2 separate regions of the Homo sapiens genome follow, and region 2 is linked to region 1. Evidence: fine-mapped expression QTL. Tissue or cell type: whole blood. Region 1 holds a variant in brackets; the other region holds the start of a gene. All regions are shown on one strand. Distances are between the middles of the regions.

Region 1 (2,761 bases):
GATCATTATGCATTGCATGCCTGTAACAAAATATCTCATGTAACCCATAAATATATATACCTACTATGTATCCACAAAAATTAAAAATAAAAGATAAAAAACAAATAAAAGGCAAGGATGCATGTTCTCACCACTTCTATTCAGCACTGTACTAGCTGTTGTAAACACAGCAATTAGGCAACAAAAGAAATAAAAGGCATTGAGATTATATAGGAAAAAGTAAAACTATCTCTATTTGCAGAAGCCACAAAAAATTAGGGCTAATAAACAGTTAAGGCAATATACAAAAATCAGTTTTATATCTATAACAGAAATGAACAATCAAAAAATAAAATTAAAAACCCAGTTCCATTGAAAAAAGCATGAAAAAGAGTAAAATATTTAGGAATAAATTTAACAAAAAAGTGTAAGACTTGCATAACTGAAAACTACAAGACATCATGGAAAGAAATTAAAGACCGAAATAAATGGAAAGACATCTTGTGTTCATGGACAGGAAAACTTAATACTGTTAAGATGACAATACTACCCAAAGTAACCTACAGATTCAATGCAATCCCTATAAAAATTCCAGCTGCCATTTTTGCAGAAATAGGCAAGATGATCATAAAATTCATATGGAAATGCAAGAGGCCCAGAATAGAGAAAACAATCCTGAAAAAGAAAAACAAAGAGGGCTCAAACTTCCTGATTTCAAAACTTACAACAAAGCTACAGTAATCAAGACTGTGTATTTCACATAAGGACGGGCATATACATTAGTGGAATGGAATTGAGAGTCCAGAAATGAACCCATACATCTACAGTCAATTACTTCTTAAAAATGAGATGGTGTCTTAATATGTTTCCCGGGCTGGACTCAAACTCCTGGGTTCAAGCAATCCTCCTGCCTCAGACTCCTGGGCAGCTGGTACTACAGATGCATGCCTGGCTCTATAGCCAAATAATTTTTGACAAGGGTGCCAAGACTATTCAATGGGGTGTCAAGAAAATTCAATGGGGAAAGAGTAGTCTTTTTAACAAACAATGTTTGGATAAATGGATATCCACATGCAGAAGAATGAATATGAACTCCTACATCATACCATGTATAAACTTTTACTCAAAATGGAAAGAGACCTAAATCTAAAAGCTAAAACTATACAATTCTTAGAAGAAAACACACTGTAACTCTTTGTGACTTTGGATTAGGGAATGGTTTCTTAGATGTACACCTAAGGTACAAGCAACCAAAGACAAAGCAGAAAAAATACACAAATTGGACTTCATCAAAATTTAAAACTTTCGTGTTTCAATAGAGTATAAAGAAAGTTAAAAGAAAACCCACAGAATGGGAGAAAATATTTGCAAATCACATATCCAAGAAGCATGTAATATCTAGCATGTATAAAGAACTCTTACAAACCAAGAAAAAAGATTAAAAAATCCAATTAAAAAATGAACCAAGGATTTGAACTGACATTTCTCCAAAGATGATATACATGAAAAGATGCTCAACATTATTAGTCATTAATAAATTACAAATGAAAACCACAAGAACATTCCACCTCACACCTAGTAGGACGACTATTGTCAAAGAGAGGGACAATAACAAATGTTGTGAAGGATGTGGAGAAATTGGACCTTCACACATCCCTGGTGCAAAGGTAAAATGGTAATATCCAAACAGTTCGGCAGTTATACAAAAAGCTGAACTTAAGAGTTACCACTATATGACTCAGTAATTTCACTCATATGCATATACCCAAGAGAACTGAAAA[CAT/C]ATGTTCACACAAAAACTTTTCCACAGATATTCATAGCAGCATTATTCACTATAGCCCCAATGTGGAAACAACCTCCATGTCTACAAATGGATGAACCGATAAAATGTAGCATTCATACAATGGAATATTATTCAGCCATAAGAAAGGATGAAGTACTGATACAGTTGTCCCTCCATATCTGTGGAAGATTGCTTCCAAGACCCTCCTGTGGCTATCAAAATCCACATATGTTCAAGTCCCTTACAGAAAATAGTGTAGTATTTGCATATAATCTACAAACATACTCTTTATATATTAAATAATCCCTAGATTACTTATAATGCTTGATACAATGTAAATGCTGTGTAAATAGTTGTCATACTGTATTGTTTAGGGGAATAATAAGATTAAAAAGTGTGCACATGTTGAGAGCAGACACAATCATCCTCTTTTTTTTTTTTTTGAGAAGGGGTCTCACTCTGTCACCCAGGCTGGAGTGTAGTGGCTGATCTTAGCTCACTGCAACCTCCGCCCCCCAGGCTCAAGCAATCCTTCTACCTCAGCCTCCTGAATAGCAGGGACTACAGGTGCATGCCACCACACCTGGCTAATTTTTGTATTTTTGGTAGAGATAGGGTTTTGCCATGTTGCCCAGGCTGGTCTTGAACTCCTGGGCTCAAGTGATCTGCCTGCCTTGGCCTCCCAAAGTGCTGGGATTACAGGCATGAGCCACCGTGCCCTGCCTTTTCTGAATATTTTTGATCCTCAGTTGGTTGAATCCATGGATGTGGAACCCACAGGTACAGAGGGCCGACTGAACATGCTACAACATAGATAAATCTTGAAAATACACAAGTGAAAGAAGCCAGTCATAAAAGTTCATATATTTTCTGATTCCATTTATATGAAGTGTCTAGAATAGGCATATCCATAGAGGCAGAAAGTAAACTATGGGTTGCCAAGGCCTGGAGGAGTGACTGCTAATAGGTATGGTGTTTCTTTTTCAGGTGACAAAAAAT
Region 2 (2,607 bases), 120 kb before region 1:
CAGACCAGCCTGGGCAACATGGCAAAATCCCATCTCTATTAAAAAATACAAACAAATTTAGCCAGGCATGGTGGCCCCTTGCCTGTAGTCCCAGCTACTTGGGGGGCTGAGGTGGAAGGATCACTTGAGCCCAGGAGGTCAAAGCTGCAGTGAGCCGAGATCACAGCACTGCACTCCAGCCTGGGTGACAAAGTGAGACCCTGTCTCAAAAGAAAAAAAGGAACAACAATAAGAACACCATAACAAATAAATATTATTTTTGGTGCATTGACAATTGTGTATAAATCAACACTTCATTAATATGAGAACAGAAGGATATCAATTTGTTGGTTGCTGACCAATATTATCAACAATTCAAGGCTTTACTAACAACCAACCAATGATTTGGCAGGTCTCTCAAACGAGGGGAAATAAAGAATTTTATGAATTCTCAAAGATGGAAAATAGAAAACTGATGACCACACAGCCTTCAAAACTTGCCCAATACCTCTAATATCCACGGCAATCAGTTGCTCACGTAAGGAACCAGCATTTTGTGGAGTAGTAGTTAATAAAGATGACAAGTGAAGAATAGAGAATAAACTTAAATTCTACAAAGATATGAAAAGTTATTGAGGCACAAGTCCAAAGGCTATAATAAAGAAAAAAGAAAAAAAGTTTTGAAAAATTAAAATGTAAATAAAGATGTGGTGGGAGATCTATCAGGGAAGTGCAGGAAGAACCAAGCAACTCACAAACCACCCTCTGGCTGGATGTGCACAGCCTGCCCAGTCCCGTCCGGCGAGTCACCTCAGTCCCATCCAGGTAAGGCCGGACAGGTGGCTCCCCAGGTGGCAAGAGGCAAGCGAGCGGCCCAGGTCATACACCGGGCCCCTGGCACCCTCAGCCTGGACAGGAAGGGCGCGCGGGATTCAGCCCAGACGAGGGAGGGAACGCGAAGACTCAGCCGGTCTGGGCGCGCCGTTCTGGCCCCAGGGCCCGCGGGTGCTGCAGGTGGCCGCGTCCAGGGCGGTAGGTGGGGCCTGCCCGCTCGCCTCCCGAGGCCGGACCCCGGGACTCAGCGAAACCCAGTCAGACCCGCGCCCCACGCCCGCCCCCAAGTCACCTTCTGCACGCTGGAGCCGCAGACCCGCGCCGCCCGGTCATAGACGTGGCAGCGGATCACAGAACTGCCCACATCCAGCCCCAGCACGAAGCCGGGGTACCGCGGCTCCTGCGCTCTCTGCTCCGGGTCCGTGAGCAGCCCCGACATCCCGATCCCGCACGCCTCTCCGCTACAGCCGCCTACCCAGAGGGCGCGCTACAAATCCCAATGCTCCAGAGTCCCCGGGCGGCCCAACCCGGGCCCCAACCCGGCTCAGCCGGAGAGCCTAGAGAGGCCTGGCCCCTGCCGCCGGCTCCACCCCGACGCCGTGACGCCACGGGCGCGCGCCGGCGGCCGCGCGGGAGGGGTGGAGGTGAGCGGGTTTGCGCCGTGATCTGCAGCCCCAGATCGCCAGCCATGCTCAGCCTCCAGTCGCCGGCCGCGGTTGGATTGACTTGGCCCTTAACTCTTGTTTTTTTTCTTTTTGAGACGGAGTCTCACTCTGTCGCCCCGGCTGGAGTGCGGTGGCGCGATCTCGGCTCACTGCAACCTCCGCCTCCCGGGTTCAAGCGATTCTCTTGCCTCAGCCTCCCGAGTAGCTGGGATTACAGGCGCGCTCCACCACGCCCGGCTATTTTTGTATTTTTAGTAGAGAAGGGGTTTCACCATGTTGATCAGGCTGGTCTCGATCTCCTGATCTCGTGATCCGCTCGCCTCGGCTTCCCAAATTGCTGCGATTGCAGGCGTGAGCCACCGAGCCCGGCGGCCCTTAACTCTTAATTTTTTCTTTTGCTTCTCCAGCTTCCTGAGAGGCAGCGCCAGCGTTTCTCTTAACCCTAGCTACATTTGAAGAATCTCTGTTAAAGAAAAATAGCTACCCCATATGCTAATCGTAAGGAGAGAAGTATAGGCTAGTTTATATAAAAATCTCAAAAAGTTTGGAGGTGCCATAAGGCACATTTATTCATTTCTCAACTATGATTATGACTTGAGGGTTGGAGAAATTTTTATCTGAGTAACTTTGGCAGACTAACCTGTGTCTGCGTTCGTGCAGAATTTTTCAAGCTTAAAACATTTGTAGAGGTCACTACCATATATAGTTTCCATTTTTTTGCTAACATTTTGGGTGCGACTTTATTTCAGTATTATTAAATGCACAGCCATTGAATATGCTAGAGTTAAATGAAATAAAGTGCTGTTTTTCAAAAATGAAATAAAACAAGTGACATAAAAAATTCAAAATTTGGCCAAAAGTATTAATATTTATTAACAAACTGAGAGCTCCCCACGACTTCTCTTCCCAGAAAACCTGGTAAAGTTTGCACACAATACAAAGCGGTAAATATTTGCCAAATGAAATACAACGCAAGGAAGAAGACTTTTCTCAGCCCTCTAGTGGGAAAGAAAGGAGAAAGCTTAAGGTGGCTGCTTTGACCATCACACTCCACTCCAGCGGTTGCTTTTTTTTGGAATCTGAAAGCCTCACAGAGACCCTTTACCTTTTGTTGCTGCCCAAGGGGATG

Evidence for each region. PIP is the estimated chance that this variant, and not a neighbour inherited with it, causes the effect.
Region 2: GK5 starts here. The variant in region 1 is fine-mapped to the expression of GK5 in whole blood (TOPMed, PIP above 0.99).

Annotation. Positions count from the first base shown.
Region 1 is chr3:142,344,295-142,347,055 of GRCh38, forward strand. The region is part of intron 33 of XRN1 (5'-3' exoribonuclease 1); the gene reads right to left. Among named protein-coding and RNA genes, the nearest start is that of XRN1, 100 kb to the right of the region's middle. The variant CAT/C (reference allele first, on the strand shown) is at 1,761.
Region 2 is chr3:142,224,204-142,226,810 of GRCh38, forward strand. It overlaps GK5 (glycerol kinase 5), which reads right to left and starts at 1,382. Exons shown (of 16, transcript NM_001039547.3): 1 at 1,106-1,382. The coding sequence starts at 1,252. RefSeq lists silencers at 916-1,135, 1,326-1,565.